7 linked regions of the Homo sapiens genome follow. The protein of the gene in region 7 purifies or fractionates together with the protein of the main gene of each other region. This does not show direct contact. Each region holds a gene or a part of one and is shown on either strand. Other genes may lie near its edges. The genes, in order: FAM174A, SPANXN3, SULT1C4, INF2, PUDP, DNAI2 and CCZ1B.

The links.
Region 1: the proteins of CCZ1B (region 7) and FAM174A purify together in Homo sapiens (co-immunoprecipitation; one large-scale study listed by IntAct). This does not show direct contact.
Region 2: the proteins of CCZ1B (region 7) and SPANXN3 purify together in Homo sapiens (co-immunoprecipitation; one large-scale study listed by IntAct). This does not show direct contact.
Region 3: the proteins of CCZ1B (region 7) and SULT1C4 purify together in Homo sapiens (co-immunoprecipitation; one large-scale study listed by IntAct). This does not show direct contact.
Region 4: the proteins of CCZ1B (region 7) and INF2 purify together in Homo sapiens (co-immunoprecipitation; one large-scale study listed by IntAct). This does not show direct contact.
Region 5: the proteins of CCZ1B (region 7) and PUDP purify together in Homo sapiens (co-immunoprecipitation; one large-scale study listed by IntAct). This does not show direct contact.
Region 6: the proteins of CCZ1B (region 7) and DNAI2 purify together in Homo sapiens (co-immunoprecipitation; one large-scale study listed by IntAct). This does not show direct contact.

The regions. Positions count from the first base shown.
Region 1 is NC_000005.10:100,580,374-100,583,807, forward strand, and holds part of FAM174A (membrane protein FAM174A precursor), read left to right. Parts: intron 1-973; coding exon of another isoform or gene 974-992; exon of another isoform or gene 993-1,031; intron 1,032-3,434.
Region 2 is NC_000023.11:143,514,676-143,518,861, forward strand, and holds the start of SPANXN3 (sperm protein associated with the nucleus on the X chromosome N3), read right to left. Parts: upstream 2,801-4,186; 5' UTR 2,717-2,800; coding exon 2,639-2,716; intron 2,220-2,638; exon of another isoform or gene 2,015-2,219; coding exon of another isoform or gene 1,940-2,014; intron 1-1,939.
Region 3 is NC_000002.12:108,380,954-108,384,453, forward strand, and holds part of SULT1C4 (sulfotransferase 1C4), read left to right. Parts: intron 1-758; exon of another isoform or gene 759-808; coding exon 809-934; intron 935-1,431; coding exon 1,432-1,529; intron 1,530-2,139; coding exon 2,140-2,266; intron 2,267-2,462; coding exon 2,463-2,557; intron 2,558-3,500. UniProt on the Homo sapiens protein: Sulfotransferase that utilizes 3'-phospho-5'-adenylyl sulfate (PAPS) as sulfonate donor to catalyze the sulfate conjugation of phenolic compounds.
Region 4 is NC_000014.9:104,692,618-104,696,117, forward strand, and holds part of INF2 (inverted formin-2), read left to right. Parts: intron 1-3,500.
Region 5 is NC_000023.11:7,078,654-7,082,153, reverse strand, and holds part of PUDP (pseudouridine-5'-phosphatase), read left to right. Parts: intron 1-3,500. UniProt on the Homo sapiens protein: Dephosphorylates pseudouridine 5'-phosphate, a potential intermediate in rRNA degradation. Pseudouridine is then excreted intact in urine.
Region 6 is NC_000017.11:74,312,234-74,315,384, forward strand, and holds the end of DNAI2 (dynein axonemal intermediate chain 2), read left to right. Parts: intron 1-421; exon of another isoform or gene 422-595; coding exon of another isoform or gene 596-727; exon of another isoform or gene 728-1,307; intron 1,308-1,887; coding exon 1,888-1,983; 3' UTR 1,984-2,038; intron 2,039-2,355; 3' UTR 2,356-2,651; downstream 2,652-3,151. UniProt on the Homo sapiens protein: Part of the dynein complex of respiratory cilia.
Region 7 is NC_000007.14:6,823,476-6,827,694, reverse strand, and holds the start of CCZ1B (vacuolar fusion protein CCZ1 homolog B), read left to right. Parts: upstream 1-1,419; 5' UTR 1,420-1,497; coding exon 1,498-1,617; intron 1,618-2,957; coding exon 2,958-3,055; intron 3,056-3,146; coding exon 3,147-3,240; intron 3,241-3,528; coding exon 3,529-3,606; intron 3,607-4,219.

The sequences.
Region 1 (3,434 bases), on a different chromosome or scaffold from region 7:
AATTTACTAAGTATTAACTCACACGATCACAAGGTCCCACAATAAGCCATGTGCAGGCTGAGGAGCAAGGAAAGCAGGTCCGAGTTCCAAAACTGAAGAACTTGGAGTCCGATATTCGACGACAGGAAGCATCCAGCACAGGAGAAAGATGTAGGCTGGGAGGCTAGGCCAGTCTCTCACATTTTTCTGCCGCGTATATTCTAGCCATGCTGGCGCTGATTAGATTGTGCCACCCCAGATTAAGAGTGGATCTGCCGCTCTGAGTCCACTGACTCAAATGTTAATCTCCTTTGGTAGCACCCTTACAGACATACCCAGGATCAATACTTTGTATCCTTCAGTCCAATCAAGTTGACACTCAGTATTAACCATCACACTTGCAGTCTTCTATCTTTGCTGGCCACAGCTGAGGGATAGCTTGTCCTGCTTGGTTTTGGAGCACAGCCTCTATCCCTGCCATTCTTGCCAAAAGAGCGTCCTGTTAACAGACCCACTAAGATTATACCGTGTACTCCTGGTTCTGTTGCAGAGTTTGTTTGTTTGTTTGTTTTTGTTGTTTGTTTGTTTGTTTTGAGATAGATTTTGGCTCTCGTTGCCCAGGCTGGACTACAATGGCGTGATCTCAGCTCACTGCAACCTCTGCCTCCCGGGTTCAAGCGATTCTTCTGCTTCAGCCTCCCAAGTAGCTGGGATTACAGGTGCCTGCCACCATGCCAGGCTAATTTTCTGTATTTTTAGTAGAGGCGGGGTTTCACCATGTTGGCCAGGCTGGTCTCGAACTCCTGACTGCAGGTGATTCACTCACCCGGGCCTCCCAAAGTGCAGGGATTACAGGCGTGAGCCACTGCACAAGGCCTGCGGCATTTTTTTTGAGTCAACCAGTCTACCTTCTACAACTTCTATATCACCTCTCCAGAGAGTAGGAATCCTTAGCTACTTTTCTCATACCATATTGATTCTCCACTTTTTTCAGACTGCTGTGGAATTCCTGAGAAAGAGCAACTGAGGGATAGCAACATGGATTTCACTGAGTAGGTGGCAATTGAGTTAAAGTTATTTTTTTAAAGATATAAGTTAATCAAATAAGAGCCTATGAAGGCCCAGCATGGTGGCTCATGCCTGTGATCCCAACACTTTGGGAGGCCAAGGTGGGCGGATCACTTGAGGTCTGGAATTCAAGACCTCGCTTAAGGCTGGAAGACCATGCTTAAGGCTGGAAGAGAATTGGCTTAATTCTTGATAAGTTAAAAATAATTCCAATTGGGCATATAAATAAGAATGCCTTCTTCAATATTACATTTGGTCGTGGTTGAGTCATGCCAGGGAGGGAGTGGGGAGTGGTGGTTCCTACAGTAGCCCCTGAACAGCATGAAAACATCCAGAATAGAATTCTGAGGAAATTCCCACTCAAGGAATGAAATACTCTAAATGAGAGAGCTGGTCATACAGTCTTATAAATATAAACAGGTTCAAGGAAATGTTGGGCACAATGTAATATGATTGCTAGATCATAATAGTTATGCTAATTTGCATATGTTTTGAGGTTAATTACGAGTCTCAAAACGCCTTTCTGAAACCATATCTTAAGAGACTCTTTATGTGGTAGGTAATTTTCTATTTGAAAAAAATCTTTTAGATATTCCTCAGGGTCTCATATATAGTCAAGTTCAAAAGGCTATTTAGTGATAGAATTTGGATTAGGTTCTAGTAATTTTGTGTTCTCCTAGTTTATGAAACTGCAATTTTGATTTTACAGATTGACTTTTTTTCATAGTCTACAAATTCATTATCAGTATTATCATGGGTTTCAAGCGTTAAAAGGACAAGGGCTGTACAAAAGAATTCTAAGTGTTACATGTTTTTTTTTAATAACCTTCAGTATATTTTTTAAAGGATTAAATTTACTTTCAAAGTAAAAATATATTAGAACCTCATTATCTTATACTAATCATTTAGAGAACTATTACAGACTGCTGACTAAAGATTCAGATAAGATGAAAAAGAGCATTATTCATTTTCAGATGTTTTTCCAATGAAGTTCTAAATGTTATTGATGATTATAAAGGAAGATTTATTAAGTTTGTAAAATATGCACATTTTGTTTTTTTTTTTAATTTGGTTTGATCAAATGCTTTTCATTACGATGGCTCTTACTAGCAGAAATATTTTTGGAAGGCAGGATTTAAATTAAGTAGTAGTAAAGTTGTATAATTAGAATTAAAATCTATAAAAATTTGTATGTCAAAATATAGTTTTATATTATAATAAACTAGTTAGGCAATAAGAGAGTAAATGGGCAAACTTGCCCCATTGTAGTGTTTATTGGAAATCTTGTCTTTAGTATGGATAATTTTTGTTACCGTATTATAAATTTCCAAAGCATTGATTGTTTTATAGATTATACCTAGTAGCTTGTAGCTTTAGTAATCCTCATTTCTGAAGGTTAGAAATAGGAACAAATAACTGTATTTATAGGAACCATAGAAATGAATAACTGTTGTTGGCTCTTGAATAACATGGGGGCTAGGGGCACCAACTACACAGTCAAAAATCCACGTGTAATTTTTGGACTCCCCAAAAACTTAACTACTAATAACCTGCTGTTAACTGGAAGACTTACTAATATCATGAACAGTCAATTAACATGTATTTTGTATGTTATATGTATTATATACTCTATTCTTACAACAAAGCATGCTAAAGAAAAGAAAATGTTACTAAGAAAATCATAAGGAAGAGAAAATATATTTACTGTTCATTAAGTGAAAGTAGATCTCATAAAGGTCTTCATCCTTGTCTTCACGTTGAGTAGGCTGAAGAGAAGGAGGAAGGAGGGGCCGATCTTGCTGTCTCAGGGGTGGTAGAGGCAGAAGAGTTGAAGCAGGTGGAAGGGGAGGCAGGCACACTTGGTGTAACTTTACAGAAACACATCTGAGATTTTTGCCTTTTGATTTCTCTAAAACTGTTTCTATTGGTACCAATTCTTCTTCCACAGCTTGCTTTAGTTTTAGTGTCCATATCATAGAAAGGTCCATGTCATAAAAGAAGTTGAAAGCAGTCTTGAATAATTGGAATTCTTCTGCCACATTGACTACTGCCAATTTGTTTTCTGGTACAGCTTCTTCTACATCTTCTTCCTTATCATGTGGCACTGGTTCAGAAGCACTCATCTCCATCAAGTCATTTTCTGTTCATTGTTCCATTGTAATGTCAGTTAGCTCTTGAATTACTCCAAGATCCTCATCTTGACATCTTTTATTACCGATTTTTTTTTTTTGCAATATCCACAGTTTCTTTCATGATTTCCTTGATTGGCTCTATTGTAAATCCTGTGAAGTCATGTGCAACATCTTGAAACAGTTTCCTCCAGCAGAACTTACTGTTTTGCACTTGATGGCTCTCAAGTCTTTTTCAATAAAATAGCAGCATCTTCA
Region 2 (4,186 bases), on a different chromosome or scaffold from region 7:
TCACCCATATTATCCACCGGTTTAAACTCCCCTCTTGCATCCAGTCAGACAACGGGCCAATTTGTTTCACAGTTTAACCAACAGCTGGTAAAGGCTGTAAACATTAAATTGGCTTTGCATATTCCTTACCACCCCGAATCTTCAGGGAAACTTTTTTAGAAAACAGCAACTGACCAATCTTCCCTAAAGGTTAAAATGGCCTGGACTTCACTTCTCCCATTGTTCCTCATGCATTTATGAGTCATTTCCCAAAAGCTCCTCAGCCTAAGCCCATTTAAACTCATGTACAAATGCCCTTTTATCCTCCAGAATCTCCCTGTATTTTCCCCCCATTCTATATGGAATACTTGGCCGGCGTTACACCTCACCCAACATCTAATAAGACAGTACACAAATGCTTACTTGACCCAGCCTAAAAGTCCATCCTCAAAATACTCCGCCCTGTCCCTACAACCAGGGGACTGGGTCTGAATCACAGACTCCTCCTCCTCCCCTTTCCAACCTAAGCGGAAATGTTCCCACCAGGTTATCCTAACTACTCCGACTGGGGCAAAGCTAACATCCTTTCCACACTGAATACACCATTCCAAACTAAAAAGAGCACCAGACCCACATCTAGAAATTTCCTCACCCCCATATTATTCTCCTTCCCCGACAGGACCAACCTCACTGTACTTAACAAGAATTCCAGAAGTTGCCAATCCAGAACACCTTAGTCCATAACACTCTCTGTCTCCAATTTCCAATCTTTTATCTCCTACTTTATTTCAGATCTTTCCTGGCTACCCTTCCCCATGTCCCTGAATAGTCCATGCCAATTCGTCATACTAATCCAGGAGGTATGACTGCAGGGCACCTTCCAAAATTTCACTCCTACTCAAATCTCCTCTTTCTTCTTTTGTCCTCTTTGTCTGTGGGATACTCTAAGTCCCCACCCCCAACCTCTGACAGTTGAGCCCCCTTCATCAGCCTCACACCTTTCCTCTTAAATCAGTCACACTCCCCTCTTCCTTCCAACTGTTAAACTTGTTTGTCCACACAAATCCAGCAATTCACAGCCCTTCCTGTCAACCTGGCCACATGAACTCGGTCCAAAATAAGCCTGCATCTCACCTACTTGACCAGTTCATTCCCAAACCTGTTTATAATCTTGATCAGCTAAACTCTTTTTCCCCCAATCCATCAAATCCACCCACACCATCACATACAGGGCTGTCACCCTCCCTCGCCTCATAGCCTCTTAACTGAATATGTTACAAACGGATTCCATAAAACACCTTTTAGAAACCCCTCCCCTCTTGGCTGGAGCCGCTCTTCATATTATCCAACTCAAGGGCGCTCGCTGGAAAACATGCACAAACAATTCCCTCAAGTGCAACCTATATCCTTCTGCCCTGTCAGGGCTACAATGGCTATTAGTTACAAAAACCCATTTCCCCCTCTCTTTCCAAAACCAAACAGCCTCCATCTCCTCCACCACCAACATTTCCTATCAGGCCGTCAGAGGGGCTACCCTTGCTGGCAGCTATTCAACTTGGAAAAATATAAAAGTTAAAACAAAGAATTTCTGCAGAATTCAACACCCACCTTCTCATGGCTTGCCACCATAACCTACAACTTTTGTCTGTCCACCCCCAGTGTCTTCTTCTTTTGTGCCACAAACTCTTATCTCTGCCTACTGGCCAAATGGTCAGGAACATACACCCTGGTGTTTCAGCCTAAACATTAACATTTTGCCTAACAAGCAGACCATCCAGGTTCCTTTAGTAGCTTCTGTCTCATCTTCCTCCACACACACTAAGCAGGCTCTACATCTCATTCTAGTGTTAGCAGAAGTAAACATCTCTGCTGCAGTCAGCACTGAGATAGCAGGGGGCCCCTTTCTTAGGACCCTTAATTTTCCTCCTCCTAATACTACAATTGGCCCATGTATATTTACCTTCATATCCCGCTTTATCTCCCGAAGGCTAAACTCCCCTGTCCAGGCGGCCACCCAGCAACACATTGATACCATCCTTCTCCTCTGCCAAGTCCAGTACCAGTGCCTCCAGGAAAACAACTCTGAAGTCCAACACCCACTGCTTCAAAACCCAAACCCTGATTACAGCTCCCCTATTCGGCAGGAAGCAGCCAGATAATCAACAATGCCCCTCTTCCTTTTATACTAAAGTAGAAGGCAAGAATGTGAGTCCAAACCACCATTTAGTAAGCACCCTGCTATTTTTCAGACCTTGGTCAAAGTGAAACATTCCACGGGGGTTCGGGCCATGAGAAAAATCTTGCCTAATCGTCGTAACACAAGACGGACAAAGGTCCAACTAAAGAAACTTTCCTATCATATCTTGCTGGGCAAAGTTTCAAGATACACCACAATGACATCCCACTGGAAAAAGGACCAAACAGCCTGATCATAAAAACATCTTATCAATATCCTGCCGGGCAGCAAGCCATACTGCCCAGGCCCCTCCCACCCCTACCTACAAGCACCCCAGCCTGTAAGCAGCGGTGGGCTCTGGCATTAAGCGGGTCCCCCACTTCCACAGGTGTCTGCAGTATTCCTGTGTTGCTGTTTGAGCCACCCCCTCTCTGTGTGTCTTTCTTTCACCCTCACCTTCCCTTCAAAACCTGACAATCTTACCTCATCATTTTTTTTGTTATTGGATTCACAGGGGCTCTTCGTCTTCTCCCCATTGGTGCTGGAAGTTGGCTGTTCCATGATTCTGGTTGGTTGTAGAATGTCTATAGTAGGCTCCTGTAGACTGCAGACTTCCACAGCTATGTTGAAGCTTCCCAGTGGGATGTCCCAGAGCTCTTGCCCTCCCTATATATACCCTCCTGGTGACAAGGCAAAGCCACACCCTTGAGCTTTGTTTGATCATACAGGCAGTGTCCCAGCCAATGGCGGTCCTAAGGTGGCTTTGACATCACAAAGCCCCACTGCTGACCACTCCTTGGGCTTGTGGGGGAGGGGTGACAGGGATGTAGAGGAAACCAAATGCGGTTGTTGTTTCAGCATCCCCTGAAGATGCATCCCAAACCGATCTGCCGCCGCTCCTCATTTCTCCATGTTTAATGTTCATGGTTCACATGGAAGTCAGAGGATGATTCCTTCAAGCCCTTCCCCACAGCCATTCCTATGAAGTGATTCATTCTTTTGTCTTCCAGCCCTCACCATGACTTAGTATTTTAGATGTCTCACCTCAAATCCCCCAAGCTAGTGTGGCTACATTTAATTATTAGTTATTAATTACTAGTTACATTTAATAATTAATAATTAATTATCCCATTTCCCTCCTACAGTTCCTTCATATGCACCTTGAAGACCATTTACTTTTAGGCTACTGCCAGGCAAATTTCAACCCATGTTATTTTACTCAATGTCCGTGTAGTTCTTTTAAATTTCCTATTTCCAATCTGCAATAATGGCCTTCAGTCTGTCAAAATTTTAGTGAATAAACATTCTTTACTGTGTATCCTAGTCTTGTTTCAAATGAGGGGTGTATTTTCATAGTAAATGTAGTCTCCCAACATGAATTCTGCCAGTATGTGGGTGGGGGAAGGAGTGGATATTCAAGTGCTGGAAGTTGTTCTCAGTGTTTACATGCAGGATGCTACAATCTAAGACCCACATGTGCACCAGTATGGGCATAGTTATACTTTGTACTGAAGATTGTGTCCAGTGCAAAAAGAAAAATGCATTCAGTTTGGAAGGGGAGAAGTAAAAGTGTCTTTTGTCAAAGACTACATGAAAGTATATGTAGAAAAGTCAATCTATAAAAAAGCTTCTACAATAATTGAGGTTAGCAAGATTGCAGAGTAAGAGATCAATACACAAATCAATTGTATGTTTATATATTAGAAGAGGCAGTGTTTCAGCTAATGGTAGTCCTAGGGTGGACTGGAAGTTAATTTCAACAAATGAAAGTTGAAACTAAGAACAGTGCAATTTAAAATATCACTAAAAATATTAAAGTCTTAGGGATAAATCTGACCAAAAATGTAAATGACTTGTACACTTAAAACTACAAAAAAATTGCAATGATAAGTTAATGACATCAAAAATCCAGATGTATACTTTGATTTTCGGTTGGAAGATTCAATATTGTAAAGTGGCAGTTATTCCAAATTCATCTGTAAGTTCAACTCAATTCTAATCAAAATTCTAAAAAGGATTTTTAATAGAAAT
Region 3 (3,500 bases), on a different chromosome or scaffold from region 7:
GGGGGAAACAGAGAAAGGCGAAAAATTGAATACTAAGTGCTAATGGTCAATATCAAGTTCAAGCCCTAATGGTTCACTCATTCAGCCAACAAATACTAAGTGTCTCCTACGCTATGCAACTGGGAAAAAGAGAGTTTGAAAATCATGTAGTCATTTCTCTATAGCAGATCACAATTTGGGGAGAATGTCCTTTCTAAGGACAATACAGCTAAATAAATAGAACAATAATAACAATCCAAATTAATAGTTGTGACAGAAAAAAATAAATGTATATTTATCAGTCTAATGTCCATTCAAAATTGGAGTATTTTTTTAAAATCATATTATGATAATAAGATATAAATAAGGAATGCTATCTTCTGAATCCCATTTAAAACCTAGCTTTTAAATTCACATAGATGGTCCAGGCATGGTGGCTCACACCTATAATCCCAGCATTTTAGGAGGCCGAGGCGAGCAGATCACTTGCAAGCAGATCACTTGAGCTCAGGAGTTCCAGATCAGCCTGGGCAACATGGTAAAATGCCGTCTCTACAAAAAGTATAAAAATTAGCCAGGGGTGATTGTGTATGCATGTAACCCCTGCTACTCAGGAGGCTGAGGCGAGAGGATCGCTTGAACCCAGGAGGCAGTGAGCCAAGATTGCACCATTGAACTCCAGCCTTGATACAGAGCAAGACCCTGTCTCAAAAAACAAAACAAAACAAAACAAAACAAAAGACATAGATGTTCTAACAAGTATTTGATCATATTTTAAGGAATGTACTATACTAGATGTCTATTCATCTTCATTTTACGTGCACGTAAGGAACAACATGGACTCAGGAGATAGTGGAATTAATACAAAATGAAGGTGATGTGGAGAAAAGTAAACGGGCACCGACTCATCAACGATTTCCTTTCCTCGAAATGAAAATCCCATCCTTAGGATCTGGTGAGTATAAATAGCCACACTTCACTACAGTCCTAAAATGCACTTAGGATTTTTACTGTCTTTGCACCTTTCGAAATTATAGGCTTTCAAACAATTATTGGTAAGTTTCATGGTTTTGTCTTTTTTTAACTGTGTCTGGCCATTGTTATACTCCAGACATTTTCTAATGGAATTACTGTTTGTACAAAAGTGAGTTAAATTTTGTTTCTCTAGTTAGAAATTAATTTTACTTCAAAAGAATAAGCTCAAGTAAGATAATCCTGGTGAAAGGGTTTGAATTTTTTAGGTTCTTATTTATTTGGATGACTGTTATGGTTAGGAATTGTTCTAGTCAAAACATCTATTCATAGGCTAGACGTATTCTCTCACACCAGATCTACAGTTACAATGTTCTTATAGATGCTTTGAATTGTAGTAGTAATAATGGAAGCAGCAAGACTTGGAAGCAAATAGATAAAAAAAAAATCGTAGAAATTGATCGAAAACCAGTTTTGCAGGTTTGGAACAAGCTCATGCAATGCCCTCACCACGGATCCTGAAAACACATCTTCCCTTTCACTTGCTGCCACCATCCTTGCTAGAGAAAAACTGTAAGGTAAAAAAGCAAAAGGAATTCAGAGTTGTACTCCTTAAAACAACCTTAGTCTTCCATTTCCTCTTAAAACACTTCACTTGTTAAATATATATATATATACCTCTTCACAATAATCAATATGCAAATTAATATGAATCCTAGCCAGGCACGTTGGCTCATGCCTGTAATCACAGCATTTTGGGAGACTGAGATGGGTGGATCAGTTGAGGTCAGGGGTTCAAGACCAGCCTGACCAACACGGCGAAACCCCATCTCTACCAAAAACACAAAATTCACAGGACGTGGTGACACATGCCTGTAATCCAAGCTACTCAGGAGGCTGAGGCAGGAGACTCGCTTGAACACAGGAGGCAGAGGTTGCAGTGAGCCAAGATAGTGCCATTGCACTCCAGCCTGGGTGACAGAGCAAGACTCCATCTCAAAAAAAAAAAAAAAAAAAAAAAAAAAAAGTCTCCCATAACCAGGATGACAAGAATGCAGCCTCAGAAAAAATGAACTGTATGAAATGTATCTACCCTAACATGACTTGCCTGGGCAGTAACAGCAAAAAAAAAAAAAAAAAATTCCTGTTTTTTTGCTTCTTCCCTTCCCCTCCCCTCATCATTCCCAGATAATCTATGTAGCAAGAAATCCCAAGGACAACATGGTGTCCTATTACCATTTCCAAAGAATGAATAAAGCTCTTCCTGCTCCAGGAACATGGGAAGAGTATTTTGAGACTTTTCTGGCTGGGAAAGGTGAGAGAATTTAGCTTTGTTTCCCTTCGTTTCTCAAAATCTCCAAACACCCTAGAAGGAAAGAATCTTTTCTTTTGACCAGCAGGGGCTCTGCCTTCTTTAATGGAACATTCTCACTTCTCTTCAGGAATTCTCCTTTCAGTGGTATAATAGGACCTCTGTGACTCATTGTCCTGTTTTCCATCCCATCCTCCAGTGTGCTGGGGCTCCTGGCATGAACATGTGAAAGGATGGTGGGAAGCCAAAGACAAACACCGTATTCTCTATCTCTTCTATGAGGACATGAAGAAGGTGAGCACAGTGCCATCTAAGGTGTACCCACTGGACCATAAAACATTTAAGTCATAATGCATTGACCCCATCAGGGACTCAGATTGATGCGGGGAACCGAAAATTGCTGCACTTCATTGGTTACAGCTGTCATTTGTCAAAGTGCACATGGCTGATCATGAGTTTAAGTATCACACAGTCTCACCTGCAGCTTCCTGGTGCTCCCAGGGATGCTGCACATTTCCCTTACAGGCAGGTTATTACACAATATGGATGGTGTCATTTTCTCCCTTGCATGTCTATTTTAAAATGCAGTTTAGCAGGAAAAAAAATCCTAGCACATTTTGGTTTCTTTGGTTTTTGGGTTTTTTTTGTTTTTGTTTTTGTTTTTGAGACAGAGGAGGAGTTTCACTCTGTCGCCCAGACTAGAGTGCAATGGTGCGATCTCAAGTCACTGCAAGCTCCGCCTCCCGGGTTCAAGAGATTCTCCTGCCTCAGCCTCCGGAGTAGTTGGGATTACAGTCGCCTGCCACCATGCCAGCTAATTATTTGTATTTTTAGTAGAAACCGGGTTTCACCATGTTGGCCAGGCTGGTTTTGAACTCCTGATCCCAAGTGTTCCACCCTCCTCAGCCTGCTAAAATGCTAGGATTACAGGCATGAGCTACCATGCCCAGAGTTTTTGTTTTTTTATTAGCACTGAGGAACATAATACTTTATTTATTTATTTATTTATTTATTTATTTTATTTATTTTTTGAGACGGAGTCTCACTCTGTCACCCAGGCTGGAGTGCAGTGGCGCGATCTCTGGCTCACTGCAAGCTCCGCCTCCCGGGTTCACACCATTCGCCTGCCTCAGCCTCCCACGTAGCTGGGACTATAGGCACCCGCCAGCACGCCCGGCTAATTTTTTGTATTTTTTACTAGAGACGGGGTTTCACCGTGTTAGCCAGGTCTCAATCT
Region 4 (3,500 bases), on a different chromosome or scaffold from region 7:
CCAGGCAACCACCTGTGTCACTCCAGAGCAGCCCATGCAGACAGACAACTGCCCAAGGGCCAGCCTGGACCCCGGAGCCCTCCCAGCCAGTCGGCCTGGGTCACAGCCTGGGTGGAATGACCAGTGTGGTCACAGCCCAGATGGGATGACTAGCGTGAAGGCCCTGAGGACCTTGCCACGCCAATGGCCAAGGGCAAGGGCCAAGGCTGCTTTCCTCTTTCGCCTGCAGCTTTTCCCAGAGGCAGCAGGGAGGGAGAGAGAGGTACCAGGAGAGTCCTGAGAGAAGGGCCAGCCTGGGCTGCCCCGAGCCTCTGTGCCCTCAGTTCACTCCTGTTCTCACCCCAGAAGGGTGACTGGCCGTGGCTGGGGCACCCTCCATCTCCCTCAGCCCCAACCTCTGTCTGTTGGAAATGGCATGGAGACCCAGAAGGAGCAGATGGGCACCACTGGAGGCCTGGCCAGGCTCCTGGCCGCCGATCAAGGCCTTTGCAGGGTCAGAGGGACATGGGAAGATGCTGCCAAGGCCCCTGGCCCTGGTGCCCTGGGCAGGGACCCTGTGCTCCCGTGCTGTGACAGCGTTATACCACCCCACCTGCTTCCTGTGACCTGGACACAGTCTGAGCACCCCAAGGTCCAAAGTGGGAGAGGTGGGGTGGGGGAGAGGGAGTGGGGTGGATTGGAGGGCTGTCCTACTGTTACAGGGCTCTGCCCCGGGCCCACCTCACAGTGAAGGCAGAGGCCCCCAGGCAGCCCTTGGTGGGCCAGAACTCAACCAGGAGCCACACTGGGGGCGGAGGGCAGGCTGTCTGCTTCCCATTTTGCAGACGAGGGCTAGTGTCAAAGCCTAGCTTTGAGGCTAACCCAGGGCACAGTTGAGGAGGGAGGGAGAGGGAAGCAGTGGCCGCTGAGCACACCAGCCCCGGGTAGTGGCTTTTCTGTATCATCTCCAAGCCCCCATTCAGCTGCTGTGGGCAGAGGCCAGCCCCAGCCCCTCGCTCTGCCCAGCGAGTGGCCAGCTGCCCAACACGCATGGAGTCCCAGTGGGCATGGCCAGTGGTGCAGGGGTTTGTTCGTGCCTGAGCTGTCCTGGCCCTCGCCGGGTCGGGGGTGGACGTGGCCAGCTGTGCGAGGAGGGCCAGCATCCCACTGGCCTCCATCTCCCCATCTGTACCTGGGTCCTTGCAGGCCCTGGGACATGGCCTCGGTGTACAGCCTGCCTGCCCCACCCTCTGTGCCCCCGGGTCCCTGTTCCTGCTCCAGGCACAGCTCAGACTGTCGCCTGCACCCAGCCTACGCTGGGAGGAGGACACAGGGTGGGGGTGAGGGAGTAGCCACCTGTCCCCACCTGCCTCTGCTTCCACCTTGTGCACAGACATGAGTGGCCTGAGAACGGGAGCCCCTTGGGGACACCCAGGGCCCCTGCCTATGCTTCCATGTGCAGAGGGCCCCCCCGGCTGCCCCTTCCCTGGGCCAGGCCAGGCTGTGGAGGTGCAGGCCCAACAGTGAGGGGCTGCCTGCAGGAGCTGGCAGAGCCATGGGCCGGACCCAGGAGGGGCCACACGGGCGGTGCTGGCACAGCCAACCCAGGTCAGAGCTACGGGGCCCTGGAGAACATCCTGGCCATTTTACAGATGAGAAAACTGAGTCCAGAATGGGCCTGGCTGTCCCAGGCCCCTGGCACCCTCGTGTCCCAGCAAGCATTGCCAAGCGGCATGTTGCACCCACGCTGAGGATCTTGTTTGCCCAGTTGGGCCTGACGGGCTCCCTGGCACTGGCTGCCTGGAGCAGAGGTCAAGAGACGCTGAGCAGGGGCTGGGAAGATTCATGCAACGTCCTAGCTCCGTCCCAGCCGCCAAACAGGAGGTGGGCTGAGTGGGAAGGCGGGCGGTCAGTGCGTGGTTATGCACTGGCATTACAGGTGGCATCTCGTCAATCTGTCAGTAAGCTGTGGGGGTGGCATTGACACACTCATCCGCATTTGAGGACAGGAACCAGGAGATCCTATGGGTCACAGGCCGGTCAGCGGAAGAGCCCAGTCTCACCCTGAATCAGAGCCGTCCCCCACCCTGGGCCCTGGTAGCAGCCCCTGGCCGTGCTGGGTGCGCAGGCTCAGCCTCTCCCCCACTCTCAATCTGTCTTTGTTCTCCCTGCTCCTGGGAAGGCAGCTGCTAGCGGGGATGTAGGCTGGGGGCAGGGACCATGGAGCCTGGCTCGTGGGCAGGCAGCGGGCAGCCGTCTTGTCTTGGCACAGGCAGGGTGGGGGCTGGACACCCTGGGGCCCAGCTAGGCACACAGCAATCAGGACCTGAACCCTGAAGCCGGGGCCTGGCTCCAATGAGCTGCTGCCCTTCCCCCTCCCAGGTTGAGAGAGGCTTTTTCTGAGGACAGAGGAGGGACCTGGGGCCTCGGAGGAGGCATCTCTGAGTATGTCTGGTCCGGGGGGAGGAAACCCAGGTGGGAGGATTCTGGTGACGAGCTCCTGGCCACCTGCCCTCATTGCCCAGCAGACCCCCTGCAGGGTACGTCTGGGGCCTGCGATAGGCCAGCCCTGGGCTCATGCCACCTGCAGGGCCTGATCAGGCCCTGTGCCCTTCCCAGTCCCTAACCACAGATCTGTACACGTCACTCCCAGCCACAGCCATGGTAGGTGCTGGCAGGCCCTCAGGCCCAGGAAGTACTTCCATGTAGCCGCTCGTCCCCCCATGCCTCTCCCTGGGCCCCCAGACTCCAGCCCAGACCCCTGAGAACGCCAGAGGTGACCAGGCCCTCAGGGAGCACCCCGTTGGCCCTGCTGTTTGTGCAGTGGAGACACTGTGGCCTGTAGAAGGCCCATTCGGTGACTGGCGAGCCGCCCACCCACCCAGGCCCTGCACACCCTCAGTGCAGGTGGAAGCGAGAGCTGGGCTTCCTGGCGTGGGGCCTCCGCCCTTCCTGTCCTCCCTTGCCTGGGCTGCGCTTGCCGACTCTCCTCCCAGTGACCCCTCCTCCCAGTGAGCCGGGGCATTTCCTGTTTGCTGCATCCCCCTACCCCCCCTACAGAGTCACCCTCCTCCCTGTGGCTTCCACAGGGCTCTGTTCCTAACCCAGGAAGATGTACCTTCCCCAGGCCCATTGTCTGCCCCAGATCCTGGGGACACAGAGAGCCCAGCTGTAGCCTGGCTCCCGGGCCAGTGGTGTCCCCTGGCGTTCAGTGCTGGCCAGCCCGGACCCCCCAGCCACCTCCACCGACACTTGCCAGAGTGCCATGAAGGACCCCTGGCCCCCAGCTCTGCTCTCTGGGTGACCCAAGCAGGGGCTACCACCGCTCTGAGCCCAGCTTCCCTCTGTGAGATGTTGCTGTCTTTTGATCATTTTGCTTGCTTTCTTCCTCAGTATGAAACGACCATATTCATCCGAGATGCAGCTTCAGTTAGTGATTGGGCAGGTGTCCCGGTGGTATCGCACCCACCATGTGATTGAAATCCGTCACCATGCGGCCTGCTTCCCATCTTTGTCTTCTG
Region 5 (3,500 bases), on a different chromosome or scaffold from region 7:
TACCTAGATATCTGTCTCTCTGCCCTTCCTGTAAACCCACGGAAGCACACCAAATTCTAGGAGCTGGGAACTGGAGTTCATTTATACACATAATTAACCAGCTTCTCCCTAGAACAGAACTCCATTTGCATTTTTTCGTCTTTTACTTCTCAGGGAAAGCCACTGAGTGAGACAAAGTTTGTGTGCACTCTTTAAAAGATGAAAAACTTTGTGAAGGCATCAGGCAGTTTTGAATCAGGTGATTAGGATCGTTCATTCCTGATGATACACTGGAGCTATATCTGATGATAACGACACTACCTAACATTTATCTGGGGCTTCCTCACCCATGTCATTTTCCAGGCATTGTTCTTCTTGTGAATTAATTCCATGAGGAACGTTAATCATTGCTCTTTGACAGATGACAAAATTGAGGCCCAAAGAGGGCGTATAATTGACGGATGTCCCGTAATCTCTGACTGTGGTCATAGTCTTGTCTTGGCTTTCATCTTCATAGGAGTCCCAAGCATTTTGGAGATCTCAGTATGTTGTGGTGGTGTAAAGCAGTCGTCCAAAACCGTTTTTGATTCATTCTCCATCAATAAGAATGTTGAGCTGCATTCCAGTCTAGACACATTGGTGTGTGTTTGTTTATCTACTCCACCTTAGAAATAATTCACAGCAATAGAAATGCAAGAAGGATAAGCTAAAATAAAATAATCGGCCGGGTACAGTGGCTCACATCTCTAAGCCCAGGGCTTTGAGAGGCCGAGGCAAGAGGATTACTTGAAGCAGAACTTCAAGACTAGCTTAGCTAACATAGGGAGACCCTGTCTCTACAAAACATAAAAAAATTTACCAGGCATGGTGACATGCACCTGTAGTCCCAGCTATTCGGGAGGCTGAGGCTGGAGAATCGTTTTGAGCCCAGGAGGTCAAGGCTGCTATGATTGTTTGACTCTGCTCCAGCCTGGGTCACAGAGCAAGATCCTGTCTCAAAACAATAATAATAAAATAATCTGTTTAAGTTTTTAAAATTAATAGCACCAAAGTACTTTAAGAAAATTTTTATACAGTGTGTTTTACAGAGCCATGTGTTTAAGTGTGCTCCATTTTTTAAAATATTGGTTTAAAATTGTGTGATCTAGCAATTTAAAAATCTTGTTTTAAATTCAGATTGTTTTGATACTCAGCTTTAATCACTGTTTATATCCAGACAGAAGTTCATGATTGGCTAATTTTTTTTTTTTTTTTTTGAGATGGAGTCTGGCTCTGTCACCCAGGCTGGAGTGCAGTGGCGCTATGTCGGCTCACTGCAACCTCCACTTCCTAGGTTCAAGCGATTCTCCTGCCTCTGCCTCCCAAGTAACGGGTTACAGGACGCACTGCCACACGTGACTGTCTCTTTTTTAAAAAAATTAGAGCCTTTTATCTCATCCATCAGTTAGGTTAAGGTTTAAATTGAAATTTAGCTAATAAATATAGTCCTCTGTGATACTAATCAGTGGTTGTTGCAAACTAATGAAATAGTGTGGCATTTTAGTATTTTTAACTAATGGATTCAAGTTCTGTAGAAGCTCTTTAGGTGGAGTACTTCTACACTGATTGAATATTGTTTTTATGCGTGGAGGTATGTGTATGTATGTTCATGAGATCTGTCGTTTTCTTGTCTGGCTTTTGTCTGGTTTTGGGATCAGGGAAGTGCTGATGTAAAATGTAAAATGAGTTGAGAGGTGTTCCCTCCAATTTCCTGAAAAGTCTGTTTAGAATTGGCATCCTTTTTTTCTTGGGAAGTTGGTAAATTTACCAGCAAGGCCATTTGATCCTAGATGTGGGAAGGAGGTTTTTAATTACAAATTCAATTCCTTTCATAGGCAGAAGGCTATTCAGGTTATTTGTGTCTTCTTGAGGGAGTTTTATATCTTTCAAAGAATTATCTCATTTCATCTAAATGGTCAAATGTGTTGCCATTAATCCTATAATAATTAAGTTTTTATCATTTTATCGATGTTAGAATCTGTAGTGATGTCTGTCCCCTCTTTCCCTGCTAATGTTAGTACATTTGGATCTTCTTTATTTTTTTGATCAGTTTAGCTAGGAGTCTACTAATTTAATTGCTCTTCTCAAACAACTCGCTTTTGATTTAGTTGGTTTTCTGTATTCTACTTTTATTTCATTGATTTTCTCTCTCATGTTTATTATTTCCTTCCTTTTATTTGTTTTGGGTTTAATTTGCTCTTTTCCTTCACTTTCTTAAGGTAAAAGCTTAAATCATTGAACTTCTTTCTTTCAGGTTTTCAATGTGGCAACTTAGATCACTTATTTGAGACCTTATTATTTAACATATCACTCAATGCCATCAGTTTTCATCGAAGCAATGTTTTAGCCACATCCCAGAAATTTTGGTAGTTTTTAGTTCTCTACAAAATATTACCTAGTTTCCCTTTGTGATTTCATCTTTGACCCATGTCTTACATAGAAGTGTAACATCCAAATATTTGTGATTTTCCACATTCCTATTATTAATGTCTATTTTAATTCTACCATCGTTAGATAAGGTATTCTGTATGATTTTAAGTATTTTATAATTTTTGAGAATAGTTTTATCCTTATAATAGGATATTTCTTGTTGAATGTTCCACGTGCACTTAAAAATAATGTGGTTTCTGCTGTTGTTGGGAGAAGTATTACATAAACGTCAATTAGGTCAGGTTGCTTGACAGTGGTTCTGAAGTCTGCTGTGTCCTTACTTCTTTTCTGTCTACTTGTTTTATCAATTACTGATAGAGGAGTTTTAAACTTCCTTCTACGTTTGTGTTTCTCCATTCAGTTCTATTGGTTTTTGCTTTATGCATTCTGAAGCTCTGCTATTTGATGTTTACACATTTAGAATTATGTCTTATTGATGAACTGATCTATTTGTCATTATGAAATGTCCCTATTTATCCCTGATGATAGTCATTCATTGTTCTAAAGGCTTGTTTGTTATTAATGTAAGTAACCTGGCTCTCTTTTGAGCAATAGTTATGTGGTATGTAGTTTTCTATCCTTTTATCTTCAATCTATCTGTGTAGTTATATTTAAAGTAGGTTTCTGTAGACAACATGTAGTTGGGTCTTTTGTTTTTCTTTTTTATTCTGATAGTGTCTATCTTAGGTGTGTTTATAATACTTATAAAGCCGTTACATAAGGTCATGATCTGCTAATTCCATCTGTCTCTATCATTTCTGTGTCTATTTCTCCTGATTGTGGGTGGTATTTGCTTCTTTGCAGCATGGTAATTTTTGATTGAATGTTAGACACTATGAATTCTACACCCAGTGGAGTGCTAGATTTTGCTTGATTTCATTTGCTTTATTTAACTTTGTCCTGGAACTACATTATGATCTGTCCATGCCTTCCTTTTAAAAATCTTTAGAGGGTCAGGTGCTCCAGATATCTGTTACCTTATCCTGAATGACTGTAGGTGTTCGGAAAAAATGAGTCTGTTGATTGTTTTGTGTAACAATTGACAAAGTAGG
Region 6 (3,151 bases), on a different chromosome or scaffold from region 7:
GGGGCCTGGACAGGGGTTGGGTGGGTTGGGGACTGGGCGGGACACATGGCACTTGGGTTCTGCTTCTGCTTGCCGACTTCCTGGGTGACCTTGAGCAAGTAGTCTTACCTGCTAGATCTTAATTTATTCACCTGGCAAGTGGGAAGAATTATTCCCTTCCTTCCAAAGCATCCCAAGTCTCCAAACAGACTTCAGGCTCCTTACAGGCAGGAACCATACTCCATGCCTCCTGGTATCCTCCCCTCCCCCCAGAGAGGGCACATGGTGAAAATGCGTGTTGAGTGACTGAACGAGGGAACATGTGTGTTGAGTGACTGAACGAGGGTCCTAGAGGTAAGTGAGCTGTCAGAGAGGAATGGGCCTTGAGACCCCTGGAGGGAAGGGCTGGGACATTAGCGGTGTGCACGTCATGCTGGCTTACCCAGGTTTGGTGTCAGGAGTGTGACCTGTGGTCAGCTCATCTGCCCATGGCCCCAGCTCTAAAGCACTTTCTAGCTGTATCACCTGAGCTGGTCGCTTCACTTCTGGCTTCCTTCATTTCCATCTGGAAAATGAGGAGATGTTGCTATAAAGATGGTGTCTGGTCATCTTCCAGGCCCTCTTTTGTACCAGCGGAGAGAGGAAGAAAAGACATTGCCTGTCTGGGTCACCTCCTTCAGGCCCCACAGATAAGATGCCAAGATATGAAAGAGCCAAAGAGCAGCGTGGAAGGGAAAAGAAACAGCGGGTATATGCCAGGATTTACCCTTGTAGGCAAGACTGGCTGCAGACTTGGGGATTGCAGGCACTGCAAAATGAAAATGTGAGGGCCCTCGTTTAAAAAGTATTAATAATTTTAAAACAGTGACAATAGAGCGTTAAACCAAGCGTGGGCCCTGCTGAGACAGGGTCCAGTGTATCTGCACAGAGCACCCACCCATGACGCCTGCTTGAAGAAGAGCTGTATGGCAAGTTCTTGGTCCCTGATAGAGTGGACAGAGCGAAGGATGGTGCATGAGCACACAGGGAAGATAACTGGTTCCATCTTGTGATTTCTTCCCTCTTCTGCCTCCCTCCCCCTGGGTCTAAAGCTGTGATTTCCACAGGTGCATTTTGCATTTGGGGGTACTTGGTTATGAGATGTTTTCTTCTCACACTGGGTAATACAGGTGGGGCAGAGAGCTCCCTCCACTTCTGGTGGAGGCAAAACTAGAATCCTGGATTCTGACGCCTAATCCAGGGCTCCTCCCACTCACCACTCCTGGCCTATCCAGCCCTGCAGAAGGCAAAGATGACACTGGCCACCTTTTACAACGCAATGGTGGCTGGTAGGCACCATGCTTTGTGACATATGTCCCAAAACGTGCTCCTCACCATGGCTTGAACATTCTACATGAAGAAGTTGAGCCTTGGAAGGGGTTCAGGTTCACAGAACTTGGCCCCTTCCTCCTCCTGCCTGCCACACACTTCCTGTCTCTCTCTTAGTCTGCAATTGGCCCAAAACGCTGGTGGTCACAAAGTACCGCGTGGTACTGAAGCTGTTTTACATAGGCTGGGTCCTTATGCCCACTATTTCTAATCCTGGCCACAGCCCTGCAAGGTGTCCTGTCCTCTCTATGGGTGAGGGGGCCAAGGAGACTCAGGAGGAGCTAGCCCGAGGCCTCCCAGTCTGCATGTGGCAGAAGCCAGGCGTGAACCCAAGTCTGCCAGATTCCCCCAGCTCTGCCCACTTTCCGCACTGTCTGGGCCCTCACCAGCCGCAGAGCTGGCACCCGGGTTCCAGGGTGCTCAGCGACCCAGGCTTCAGCCATTTGGCTGCTTTGGTCCTCGTGGGGTTCACATCCCAGGGGAGTGGGGAAGGCCTGTCCCCTACCAACACCAACACTTCTGTGCTGTCTTCCCCTGCAGCAGCAACCAAGTCCAGAAGAAGACCAGGTGGTGGAGGAGGGAGAGGAAGCAGCGGGGGAAGAAGGGGATGAAGAAGTGGAAGAAGACTTAGCCTAGAAGTCAGCCTTCGACTGCGGCGCTATCCCTGTGTGCCTTCCTTTCCCACCTCTTGGTATTGCCCCGCTCTCACAAGTGGGAGGCTGAGCTCCGCCTTAAAGCAGCACTGGGTGGTGGGCTGGGAGCATCGGGCCCTGACTCCCCAGCCCCTACAAATCACTAGCCCCCACTGACTCACTGGGCACTGAGTCCTGAGCCACCCCTTGGAGAGAGGGAAGGGGCGGGGCTTGTCCCGGAGCTGGCTGCCCCATTGTCTCAGCCACCCTGAGCCCACCCCAAGGCCGAGGCCACCTTAGTCCTAGTCCTGGATGTCTCCTGGGATTCAGCTTCTCACAGGCTCCCCAGCAATCATTTTCGTTTGTAACCTTGCAGACCCTCAACCAGACTTGCATGGCCATGGCAGGGCCTCGGGAAGACCTTCAGGAGTGGGGAAGGGTTTCTCCTCCATGATCGACCCTCCTCGTCCACCTACAAATCAGGAACAGAAAGTCTGTCCACTTTGAAAATACCTTTCCAGGCAGCTCCCTGACCATTTGGACACATTGCCACGACAGGAGCCTCCAAGTATGTGGGAGGGGACGGGCGGGACGAGCTTGGCTGTTCTGCTGCACCTGAATGCTTTCTGTTATCCTAATTCTTGTAAAATTAAATGAATCGTAACAATGCCACGAGTTAGTACGTGTGATGCATCCTGCACCCAGAGCCTGTCACGTTATCTCGTGTAACTCATTCACGACATCCCTGGAACTGTGTGCTCCCATCACCTTTATACTACACAGGAGGTTCCAGGAGCGGTACAGGGACGTGCCCAAGTCTCAGAACTCGTGACGGGGCACAGCGGGGACGGGAGCCCAGGCAGCTCATTCCTGACCCTGCACGGTCATCAACTGTGGGCCAGGTGCTGTGCAGGCCTCTCGGGGACTCCAGGGTGGGAAGTGGGCTGCCCTGGGGGTGCCCTGAAACCGCAGCTCAACAGAGCAGTCAGTGACCATTACCAGAGACATTGGGAGGTCGAGAGGGCACTTCAGTGCCAACCTTGCACAAGGAACAATGCCCTGACCATCATCATCCTGTGGATGGCAGGTGACCTTGGCAGGGACCCAAAGTGCCCTTGAAAAATGCCCTTGAAAAATGTGTTGGTCAGGTTTCGTGGCTCACGCCTGTAATC
Region 7 (4,219 bases):
GGGCAACAGAGCAAAGTGCTGTCTTAGAATAAAATACTTTTTAAATAAACTAAAAACAAAACAATGGGCCTGGTGTGGGTGGCTCACATCTGTAATCCCAGCACTTTCGGAGGGCAGGTGAGGCAGAATAGGGAATGAGGGTAACCAAGGGTTAAGGCATAAACAAAAGAACAGCAGGTGCAGCCAGTTCTAGGCAAGATTAGGCAGCATAGAGGCCACGTGTTCATTCCCTCAATCAGAGGCTGATTGACGGACGACAGGGGGTTGGCCGGGGGGGAGGGTGACAGCTTCTGATTGACGGGGGGGCGGGTGCGCGTCTCCACTTCAGCCTCTGATTGGTCACAGGCCAATCCTTCAGAGGGTGTAACCAATCGGAGACCTCTAACGGGCACCTAGGGGCGTTACCTAATTCTTCCAGCTTAATGAAAATCCTAATGGGGGCTCTTGAGCTGTTTGCTCTGTCTTGCTCCTGCTCTGTGAGTTGTACTTTCGCTTCAATAAATCTGTCTATTCCTTACTCCGGTTTTTTCTTTTGTTTCTTTTCGTTGCTTTGTTCTTTTGTTACTTTGTGCATTGCATTTTGTTCAGTTCTGTGTTCAACAAGCCAAGAACCTGGGCAATCCACGGTCAAGACCTTCCATCCAGTAGCAGAGGCAGGAGGATCCCTTGATGCCAAGAGTTAGAGAGCAGCCGGGGCAACAAAGTGAGACCCTGTCTCTACTATCTATCTATCTATTTTTTAATTATCTGGGCATGGTAGTGCATGCCTGTGGTCTCAGCTACTCCTCAGGCTGAGGTGGGAAGATCCCTTGAGCCCAGGAGTTGAGGCTGCAGTGAGCTATGATGGCACCACTGCACTCCAACCTGGGTGACAAAGCGAGATCTTGTCTCTAAATTAAATTTAAAACAATACCACCAAAACAACAACAGGCTGGGCGGTGGTGTCTCACGCCTGTAATCGGAGCACTTTGGGAGGCCGAAGTGGGAGACCATTTGAGGCCAGGAGTTCGAGAGCAGCCTGGGCAACACAGACCCCACCTCTACAAAAAAATAAAACTGGCCTTGGTGGCGCGCGCCTGTAATCCTAGCTACTTGGGAGGCTGAGGCAGGGGGATTGCTTGAGTGTCGGACGTTGAGGCTGCAGTGAGCTGAGATCGCGCCACTACACTCCAGCCTGGATGACAAACTGAGACCCTATCAGAAAAAACAACAACAACAAAAAAACAGTGCCCGCTCGGTTTTTCCTGAAACGCGCAGCCCTCGCCTGTAGCCAGGAGAAAACTCCGCGAGCCAGCAAAACACAAACTCGGCCAGGAAACAGACAACAAGGCCACCCGGGGGTGCCTGAAGAGGACGCTGCGAGGCGGATTCTTTTTCCGGGCCTGCGGCGAGTGCTTCCGGGGCGGTGGCGACGGAGGCGGAAGTGCGGTGTTTTAGCCGGTGGCTGCTGTCTCTGGGCGGGCCGTGGGAGGCTCCCGAGGTGGGGGCCGGGGCGGGATGGCTGCAGCGGCGGCCGGGGCCGGGAGCGGGCCCTGGGCGGCCCAGGAGAAGCAGTTCCCGCCGGCGCTGCTGAGTTTCTTCATCTACAACCCGCGCTTCGGGCCGCGCGAAGGACAGGTATGCGGAGGGGGCGGCGCGCGGGCGGGCGGCGCCGGTGTTCCCCGGGAAGGTGGCCCTGTGGTTCTGCCCACCTCGAGGGGCACTGACCTAGCCTGCATTGTGCCAGGTGCGAGTCCGGGCAGGGGGCTGCGGCGGGGACCTGACAGCAGGCAGGGACCGCTTCAGGTCCTAGGTCGATGGAATAAAGCCCCGTCGGGTCTATATCACTCCACACCCCAGGTTGAGGCTCTTTGCGCTTTGCTTTGCGTCAGTTCTGGGAAATTAAAATTGAACTTGGCTTTGTTAAGTGGGTAGTCCCCAACTAGAAGCGTGGAACCAGGGTGGCAGACGCTAGCCTTCAAATGATGCAAGCCTGGAGGTCCCTGTAATAGTTTTCGCCCAAATGAGGAAATAAATTAATTTCGGGAGGGGTGTGTGTGTGTGTGTGTGTGTGGTTTTTCTGAGGTGGGGACGGCGACTTTCTCAAAGGATGTCCGGAGCTGTGTTTTGTTTCCAGCAAGTCAGACTTCTGTTAAAGACTGTCCAGGCTGGGCGCTGTGACTCACGCCTGTAATCCCAGCACTTTAGGAGGCCGAGATGGGAGGATTGCTTGAGGCCAGGGGTTCCAGACCAGCCTGGGCAACATAGCAAGACCCCCAACTCTACAAAAAAAAAAAAAAAATTGAAAAGTGAGCCGGGCGTGGTGGCACGCACCTGTATTTCCAGTTACTCAGGAGGCTGAGGCCAGAGGATCGCTTGAGCCCAAGTGATTGAGGCTGCAGGTGAGCTGTAATAGCGCCACTGCACTACAGCCTGGGCAGCACAGACCCCATCTCCAGAAAAAGAAAAAAAAAACAACTTGTCAGTTCAAATGGCTGGGAACTGACTGGATTTAATTTTCAGGGAGCTATGTGTCTGCAGATGGGCACACCTTTACTTCTTACAAGCATTGGTGTATTACAAATTAGCACTAGGAAAGAAACCTGGAGACTTGAGTTTTCATAAAAATTACCTGGTGCTACTTCAGATGTGACTTCTTGACTATCGAAATTGCCTTTCTGACTGGTGGGCAGTATTTGCACAATGATGAGATCATTCCTGTTCTTCTTCTTATTTTAAATAATAGAGACGTCTCACTGTGTTGCCCATGCTGGTCTTGAACTCCTGAGCTCAAGTGATCCTCCCGCCTCAGCCTCTGAAAATACTAGGATTACAATTCCTGTTTTTCTAAAACCGGTTTTTGTTTTATTTTGTCATTAGCATGTGTGACACAAGAGGTCGACATTGAACTTAGCGTTTTCAATAGCTAAGATGAAATGTTTCTATTCATGTTGTGCTTCTGTTTCCTCATGTTTCAGGAGGAAAATAAGATTTTATTTTATCATCCAAATGAGGTAGAAAAGAATGAGAAGATTAGAAATGTCGGATTGTGTGAAGCTATTGTACAGTTTACAAGGTAATACCTCTAAGTGTGCCTTTAGCGTTCAGTGAATTCTTAAAACTGCTGCTGGAGAATTGTCCCAAACATATTTTTTTAACCTTTGTAGGACATTTAGCCCATCAAAACCTGCAAAATCTTTACATACACAGAAGAACAGACAGTTCTTCAATGAACCAGAAGAAAATTTCTGGATGGTCATGGTATTTACACACACAGTGTATCTTTCTGAAATTGTATGGTGAAGTTATGGGTGATCTTTACTGTTCAGAATTTAGGAAAGTTCTCTGGCTGTTGCATCCAAGTAAAATTAAAATAAAATTGGTTGCAATTTTAAAATCAAGTTCTTCCTATTTGCTTTATTCATTCTTGGGGCTGTTTTAAGAAGTTGTGTTTCTGGTGCTGTAGCATGTTCAAAGTTTTTAAATTAAGGCAAAATAAACATGGTCTAATGAATTCATTGTATAATTTCAGTTTATCAAACTTTGTAGGTTGTTCGGAATCCTATAATTGAAAAACAGAGTAAAGATGGAAAACCAGTTATTGAATATCAAGAGGAGGAGTTGTTGGTAATGTGTCATTGTTTGTTTATTTATTTATTTTTTTAAATGTATTGCTGAGTATGTTGAATGCCTTACTTGGTCGGATTTAAACTAGGAGGCTTTTGCAGAAGTTTCTCGGGGTATATAGCAAAGGTTTATGTTTATCATTTACATGAGCACAATCTTTTTAAAATGTATATGCACCCAATCTCACTAATACCTTCTACTCTTCATCTATATTGAAAGCCCTCCTAAAGTAAGGCTTACTGATTGACAAATTAGAGTTTAAACACTTCTGGCTGGGAACAGTGGCTCACACCTGTAATCCTAGTACTTTGGGAGGTCAAGGCAGGCAGATTACTTGAGGTCAGGGGTTCGAGACCAGCCTGGCCAATATGGCGGAACCCTGTCTCTACTAAAACTACAAAAACTGGCCAGGGATGGTGGCGCACACCTGTCATCCCGGCTTCTCAGGAGGCTGAGGCAGGAGAATCGCTTGAACCGGGGACGCAAATGTTGCAGTGAGCCAGGATTGTACCACTGCGCTCCAGCCTGGACAACAGAGCGAGACTCCATCTCAAAAAAAAAAAAAAAAAAAAAGAACGCAAACACTTTTTTTCAGCACGCAACTATTGTGGGA